Linked DNA regions of Homo sapiens: region 2 is linked to region 1. Evidence: fine-mapped expression QTL. Tissue or cell type: thyroid. Region 1 holds a variant in brackets; the other region holds the start of a gene. All regions are shown on one strand. Distances are between the middles of the regions.

What was found. PIP is the estimated chance that this variant, and not a neighbour inherited with it, causes the effect.
Region 2: GATC starts here. The variant in region 1 is fine-mapped to the expression of GATC in thyroid (GTEx, PIP above 0.99).

The regions. Positions count from the first base shown.
Region 1 is chr12:120,472,287-120,476,552 of GRCh38, forward strand. It overlaps a transcript of DYNLL1 not described here. Among named protein-coding and RNA genes, the nearest start is that of SRSF9, 4.7 kb to the left of the region's middle. The variant G/A (reference allele first, on the strand shown) is at 1,697.
Region 2 is chr12:120,444,401-120,448,544 of GRCh38, forward strand. GATC (glutamyl-tRNA amidotransferase subunit C) reads left to right here and starts at 2,044. Exons shown (of 4, transcript NM_176818.3): 1 at 2,044-2,161; 2 at 2,257-2,429. The coding sequence starts at 2,081. It overlaps TRIAP1 (TP53 regulated inhibitor of apoptosis 1), which reads right to left and starts at 1,984. Exons shown (of 2, transcript NM_016399.3): 1 at 1,826-1,984; 2 at 1-555. The coding sequence starts at 1,972. The coding sequence ends at 472. RefSeq lists enhancers at 1,166-2,013, 1,325-2,524, 1,739-2,288, 1,886-2,180, 2,014-2,859.

The DNA of each region.
Region 1 (4,266 bases):
TTAGCATGCACTACTTTTATAATTGGAATAAAACATAATAAATGATTCCTAAAATAAAACCATTATAACTATCTGTTGTATTCTGGATTATGTAAAGCATCTAGCTGTTCTCTAGACAAGCAGGAAAGAGCCCTGGCCAAATATGATCTCGAGTCTAAGTGTGCAGCCTTATAGGAGCTTACATATCCTATAGGCATCCGAAAGTCCAGATGCCTTCTCATTTTGGGTGGTGTGCTTAGGTGTATTAATACCATTCTCTGAGTCCTACCACTCCTATGTGATTGTTGCCTGGAAAGACAAAAAAGGAAAAAAAAGTGCTGTTGGAGACAATTGGGCAGTCTCCTAGGGAGAGAGAAATAGAGTCAGCTAAGTGACTCAATAGGACTGTAGGTGGAAAACTGCTTGCAAATAATAATAATTCAGCTTTAATTGTGCAATGTCCTGCAGCATACAATCTCCAAAGGAGTTCAGTTACCCAGCAGAAAATGTAGGGATGTGGTTAGTACAGGCTTCTTGGATTAGATAGAGCACAGCTAAATCCTTAGGAGGCATTTATGATCATCCATGAAACCCCCTTTATTCCTGTACTGACCTTTGCAGTTAGAACACAAATGAGACCACAATTATGACTTCATGTTCAAAGGGTTCATAGGTTCCATTCTCTGCTAAGGCCAGAGACTCTAGGCAGGGACACCTTTTAAACTTTTTGTTCATCTAGATATTCAACATTATTTATGATTTAGGTCCTGTATGAGGCCCAGGGCATGCAATAATACAGCTCTGTCCTTGAGTTGTGTATATAGGTTGCTATTCGGTCATGTAGAGTACAGTTGTGATAAGGATAAGCTGCTTGAGACTACATCGGAGGGTCACCTACCACAGTCTTAGAGATTCTAAGGAAGGCTTCTGGGAGGAGATGTTTAGAGTCTTGAAGAACCAGTAGGAGTTAACCAGGGGGAAGAGGGAAGGGCATTTCAGACAAAAATGAGGGCATGACTGCTGAGTGCAGTGGCAGTAATCCCAGCACTTTGGGAGGCTGAGGCAGGAGGATGGCTTGAGTCCAGGAGTTTGAGACCAGGCTAGGCAATGTAGTGAGACCCCTATCTCTACAAAAAACTTAAAAATTGCCAGGCCCAGTGGCTCATGCCTGTAATCCCAGCACTTTGGGGAGGTCAAGGTGGGTGGATCACTTGAAGTCAGGAGTTCGAGACCAGCCTGGTCAACATGGCAAAACCTCATCTTTACTAAAAACACAAAAATTAGTCGGAGGTGGTGGCGCACACCTGTAATCCCAGCTACTTTGGAGGCTGAGGCAGGAGAATTGCTTGAACCCGGGAGGCAGAGGTTGCAGTGAGCCGAGATTGCGCCACTGAACTCCAGCCTGGTCAACACCGAGACTCTGTCTCAAAAAAAAAAAAAAAAAAAAATTAAAAAATTATCTAGGCATGGTAACGTGCACCTGTGGTCTCAGCTACTTGATCTCGAACTCTTGAGCTCAAGTGATCCGCCCATCTCGGCCTCCCAAAGTGCTGGGATTACAGGCATTAGCCACGGCACCTGACAGTCCCAGCTACTTAAGAGGCTGAGGTGGGAGGACTGCTTGAGCCTGGGAGGTTGAAGCTGTAGTTAGCCATGATTGCACCACTGCACTCCAGCCTGGGCAACAGAGTGAGACTCTGTCTCAAAACATAAAAAA[G/A]GACACCATGAGAAATCACCCAAATAGGAGAGAGAGTAGCAGACCAGGGAAAATCCCTACTGGTGTGACTGGGGCAAGGAGTTCAAGCAGGGAAGAAGAGAGAAGGAGCTGAGGCACCACCAGCCTGGGCAACATGTTAAAACCCCGTCTCTACAAAAAATACAAAAATTAGCTGGGCATGGTGGCACACACCCATAGTCCCAGCTACTTGGGAGGCTGAGGGGGGAGAATCACTTAAGCCCAGGAGGCAGAGGTTGCAGTGAGCCAATATTGCACCGCTGCACTCCAGCCTGGGCGACAGAGTGAGATCCTGTTACAGAAATGGGCTTGTCCTTCTTTTCACCAAACTGAAAAGAAGCCTTTGATGTTGGCAGACTATTAAGAATTAATGCAGTTCCCACAGCAAGCCATTTATTCTCCACCAGAGTGTAGGGCAGTGCCCAACTGAAAAAAACAACATAAAAAAAAAAAAAAATCCCAAAACCAACAACAGCTCGGGTGATGAGTGCATGAAAATCTCAGAAATCACCACTAAATAACTTAAAGAACTTATCCATATAACCAAACACCACCTGTTCCCCAAAAACCTATTGAAATAAAAATTTAAAACAAACAAAAAACCAACAACGCCAGGCATAAAACATGCTGCAAACCTGCCCATCTGGTTTTCTCCTTTTCTCTGTGACATCAGTCCCCTCTGGCATCCCAGCAAAATATTTTCCTCTCTGTCAGGCTCAGTCATGAGCTCCTCCCAGACCTTGGCCCTAGGTATCAGTGGGCAGAGAGGAAGTGATGGGGGAGTAGACCATCTGAGAAGATGAGGAACTGGTCCCGCCTGGCAGGAGAGCTATGGAATGAGTCACTGGGAAACGTGTTCCTGGTCACAGCACCCTGGGAGCTTTCTCTGTCATTCTCTACCACTGTACTTGTGTGATGGAGTAAAATAAAACATATTCTGGAAAGCTACATAATAAAGAACTGAGCCATGCAGGGGAGGAAGAAGAGAAACAGCAGCAGAACTAGGAGGTTTGGAAGAGAGTTTGGAATTGGGGGTGAGCTTTAGGAAAGCAAGTGTCAAGTGTGGGAGGATGAGAAGAGAAAAATGGGAAAGATAATTCAAGATTTGCAGTATATTGTGAATATAATTCCCCTCTGGTGTTTTTTTCAGAGACTGCAAAAAATCTTTAACATTATTTTTCAATAACTTTTAGATAATGAACTGGTGTTTTCTTTGAATATGCCCAAACAGGTGGGAACACAAGGGCTTGATTTTATATGAAGTTACTTCAAGTGAACATACTGTATTTGTAGCAGCTCGGTTGCTTTATTTTTACTAACTTGTTAAATTCTGTGATGGAGTCTTCAAACAGCTTTTTATATCAGGGCTTCCTTTTCTTGGATTAATGGGCTTCTGGGATCAGTGAACTCCTGCCTCCCTGCCCCCTCAACCTCCACCTCCTGACCCTGATCCTGCAAAGTTGTAACAGTTGTATGCAAAATATTGTATGTGGGCAGAAAAGTGTTTTTATTCTGGGGAGAATCTCCATGTAGCACTGTCCCACAGAACTTTCTAGGATGATGAAAACATTCTATATTTGAGTTCTATGTGGTAGCCATTGGTTACATGTAGCTATTGAGCACTTAAAATGTGGCTACTGCAACTGAGAAACCAACTTCTTAAATTATATTTAACAATAATTAACTTTAATTGTAATAGCCAAATGTGGCTAGTGGCTACCATACAGGACAGCGTAGGAATTTATCATTCTCAAAGGTCTATAAGCTGTACTCCCCCATTCCCCCAAAAAAGGCCAAGAAACACTGAGACCAATCACTTCCCTTTACAGCCCTATGGTACTGGCACATAGTAAGTGCTTAGTAAACACCTGTTGATTTTATTAACTAGTATATAAAGAACAGTTATTCTAGCTCCAGAAAAGTGGAACTGAGGTACAAAATGGCAAATGAGCTCATCAGGTTCACCAAATTTCATTTCCTAAGCTCTAAATTCCTTACCCTCAACCCAGAACTTTTTCCAAAACATTTTCCACTGTAACAAACCTTGAAAACTTTCTTCACAGCAGAGTAAATCAGAAACACAAGCAAAGGGTAGGGGGGTGTGAAAAGATTAATAACAGTACTAAGAATGTTTTTCAATGCAACAAAAAAGGATGCATTTATTTAGTAGAATCCTAATTTTTTTAGACCCAAGTCAGTTTTATACTAAGCAGATTTTTAATGAACTGCGTCAATATAATTCAGTAATGGCACCTCCAAGGCAAATACATTCCTTAAAGGTAAAAAACAAGTATGGGAATTATCTGGAGTTTTTTTTTTTTAAGTTAAAAAAAAATAATAATAACTGAAAGCCAGGAAGCTTCTAGGCTACACATCCCCCATGCTAACACATGCCCAGTGGCTGAACTTCCTTCTGTCTGCCTGAGGCTGGCTCTCCCCCTCAGCCAGCACATGTGCAGGGCTTCTGTGAATGTCACATTGACAGACATTCCTTGCTAGGCAGCTGGGGACCAGTTTCTTTTGTAATTCCATCCTTCTCATGGGCTGCCAGT
Region 2 (4,144 bases), 28 kb before region 1:
ACTCACTGAAACTGTTGTGCCCAGATCCCTTTTCAGAGCATTAGTTCCCTGAGAGGAAAAAAAGAGGTCCTAACCAATTGCTTTCATAAATAGTGACCCCAGTACAGTGTATATGTCTTTTGCAGCAGAAATCAAGAGGTCAGGCAGCTCTGCTCATCCTGACTAGTTTATCATCGTTTGCATACAAGGTATATTTATGTAAAGCTGATTCCACGCCAAGTATTGCAACCATAATCTCAAAAAAATTGTTCAATTTTAGCACACAGTTCCTGCAAGATACCACAGCAGGTGAGAAATCATCTCAAAGAGTTCATCTTTTACAACTGAGAGGAAAACATCGAAGGAGGAAATAAAACTCCTCTCTCCTAAGTTCCTCATCAAATCTGATGGCTATGTTCACAGAGTTAGTTGACAAAAATCCAGAGTCCTCAATTTCTGGACTTGCGAAATCCTTCAAGGTGACTGTCAAGGTCAAGAAGAATTTTCAGGCTTTTCTTTGCCATGGCCCATGAACTCCAGTCCTTCAATAGGAATCTCTTTCTCCTTTATTGCTTTCTGGTAGGAGGAGAAAACACATTATAAAGACCTACATGAAGCTTAAGTTGCAAGCTTTGTAAATAAAATATGACAGTACAAAAGTAAAATCAAGCTGATTATAAAGACTTATAACCATGATTCAAACCACATACTTTTTAAAAAACAAGTACCGGTCAGGTGTGGTGGCTCACGCCTATAATCGCAGCATTTTGGGAGACCAAGGCAGGTGGATCACTTGAGGCCAGAAGTTAGAGACCAACCTGGCCAACATGGCGAGACCCTGTTTATACTAAAAATACAAAAATTAGCTGGGCATGGTGGCGCATGCCTGTAAGCCCAGCTACTCGGGTGGCTGAGGCATGAGAATAGCTTGAACCTGGGAGGCGGAGGTTGCAGTGAGCTGAGATTGTGCCATTGCACTCCAGGCTGGGAGACAGAGTGAGACTCTGCCTCAAAAATAAATAAAAACCAGAAGTACCATAATGAATAAATCAAGTGTAAGACCTGAGGGAGACTGGAAAAGGAGTTGTGAGGGAACCGTTAAAATTAAGTGAAATTTGAAAAATAATCATCACTTTGTGTTAGTGAAAGACTTAGGTTCAAATCTGGGTTCCAGGACTTACTGGCTATGTGACTAACTGTAAATGGGATGAAGACAGCAACTACCTCGGGGAATTGCTGTGAGGATGTGTTGGGTTAACTTATTGGAAGTGCTTTGCCCGGTGCTGTTCTTAACAATTCAAAGCAGTTCCACATCCATTGGGCCAGAATAAACATTTCCTGGCTGCAGTTGCGGGGACTGGTCAAGAGAGAGAAACAGGCTAACGAAGGGTTTATAACAACAAAAAAATGTGACCCTCCAGTCTGAATTCTGAAGTATAATCCCGCCCAGACCCCAGCAGTAATAGTGGAAAAGTGCACCACCTGCGAAAGAACCAAGGAAACCTGATGCTAGTGAACTCGGATTAATCACTTCCTATTTCTGGGTGTTAGTTTTTTATGTATAAAATATGAGTAACTATGCCCACCTTGCGAGTTTAGGGTGAACACCAAATGAACCAAAGGATGTGACTGTGCTTCTTGAAAAGCACTGCCCCAATATTTGTCATTCGGAGAGACACCCAAGTGGCCTCGGTGGTGATGGTAGGGGAGCGAGCTCCTGCCACTGGCCTCACTGCGACTTTTCTCCACCCTTCCAGTCCAGTCCCAATCCCCGTAAAATACGATGAGTGTGGTGGGACACAGCGCCGAGAATGCAGGGCCTGGGAACAGAGGCGGGAGGGCTCACCTGAACACACTGCTGGTAGCGCTTGAAGAGGTCGGTGCACGGGTCCCCGGAGCTGTCCCCCTTGAGAAATTTCTCGGCGAACCAGCGATTGAAGCACTGGTCGTACTCGCGCTTCATGTCCGTGCATGCCTCCCCCACACTGTTCATGGCGACAGTGGTGGCGGCGGCGACGACGGCGCACTCTGATGTCATCACTCTCAGGCGCGTCGCTCGGCGTTACGCGCGGGCGCACTGCGGGGGCCAAGGAAGGAAGAAATGTGGTCGCGGTTGGTGTGGCTGGGCCTTCGGGCCCCTCTGGGCGGGCGCCAGGGCTTCACCTCCAAGGCGGATCCTCAGGTAAAGGCCAGGGCCATCTAGGCGGGTGGCGGAGCAAGCCGGGAGGCACTTCGGAGCGCCGGTGACCCACACTCCCCGCCTCATCCCTCCTCCAGGGCAGTGGCCGGATCACGGCTGCGGTGATCGAGCACCTGGAGCGTCTAGCGCTTGTGGACTTCGGCAGCCGCGAGGCAGTGGCGCGACTGGAGAAAGCTATCGCCTTCGCCGACCGGCTACGCGCCGTGGACACAGACGGGGTGGAGCCCATGGAATCGGTCCTGGAGGACAGGTAAACTCGCGGCTGCAGCCCCGAAGCCTTGACCGTGGCCCGTTCGCAGCCGTTTAATGTGACGATTAGCGAACAGTTTTCCAGGGGGTTAAAGAGTGTTAGCAAGATTCAGGAACTTGCCCACAGTCACCTCGCGAGTCAGTGGCTTCACTCTTCCCCTTGTTCATTACTGATGCTCTCGCTAGTGTAAGTGGAAACAAAACCCGAACTGCTAATCACTGCCTTTGTTTTTTTTTTTGTTTGTTTGTTTTGTTTTTTTTTTTTTGAGACGGAGTCTCGCTGTGTTGCCTAGGCTGGAGTGCAGTGGCTCGATCTCGGCTCACTGCAACCTCCGCCTCCCGTGTTCAAGCAATTCTCTGCCTCAGCCTCCCGAGTAGCTGGGATTACAGGCGACTGCCACCAGGCCCGGCTTATTTTTTTTGTATTTTTAGTAGAGACGTGGTTTCACCATCTTGGCCAGGTTGGTCTTGAACTCCTGACCGTGATCCACCCGCCTCGGCCTCCCAAAGTGCTGGGATTACAGGTGTGAGCCACCGCGCCTGGCCTAATCATCGCCTTTAAGGCCCTACTCCATAGAGTCCCTACCTACTCACTCCAACGTACTCTTCTCAGTACTCTCCTTGGCTACCTTGACTGCTTCTCCAGCAAGACAAGTTCTTTTCCTCTCTAGATCTCTGCACTGGCCCTTCGTTTTTTTCCTTCCTCTCAGTATTTGCATGGCTGCCTCCCTCTTGGCACAGGTCTCAGCTTATCTTCTCAGAAAGGGCTCTCCTAACCACTCCAAATCCCTTCTCCCCTTCTAGTTAGTAACTCATCCTATTGGGTTTTTTCCCTAACATTTTAATGGACTTTTGTTCATTTGTTATATCTCTTTTATTAAAATGTGAGCTCATTATGTAGTTACTGTTTTATTCCTGCCTTGAATTTTTATTTTATTTGTTTTTGAGATGGAGTCTCACTCTATCACCCAGGTTAGAGTGCAGTGGCATGATCTCAGCTCATTGTAATGTCCACCTCCCAGACTCAAGAGAGCCTCCCATCTCAGCCTCCCAAGTACAGGACCACAGGCGCGTGCCACTTGGCCTGGCTAATTTTTTGTATTTTTGATAGAGACGGGATTTTGCCATGTTCCCCAGGCTTGTCTGGACTCCTGAGCAAAGGTGATCCACCCATCTCAGCCTCCTAAAGTACTGGGATTACAGGCATGAGCCACAGCACCTGGCCGTGTTTGATTCTTTCAAATGTCTTCTCTACTTTGCAATTTTCTTTTTCCTTTGGGACGGGGTCTCACTATGTTGCCCAGGCTGGTCGCAAACTTCTAGACTCAAGAGATCCTCCTGCCTCAGCCTCCCAAATAGCTGGGACTATAGGTGTGCACCACCACACCTGGCTAATACTTAAAATTTTTGTAGAAACGGGGTCTTGCCATGTTGCCCCATATGGTCTCAAACTCCTGGTCTCAAGCAATCCTCCTGCCTCAGCCTCCCACTTCCTCAAGAAAGTTTTTTTTTTTTTTTGAGGTGGAGTCCTGCCCCATCACCCAGGCTGGAGTGCAGTGGCATGATCTTGGCTCACTGCAACCTCCACCCTCCAGGTTCAAGTGATTTTTGTGCCTCAGCCTCCGGAGTAGCTGGGATTACAGGCACCCGCCACCACACTCAGCTAGTTTTTGCATTTTTAGTAGAGACAGGGTTTCACCATGTTGACCAGGCTGG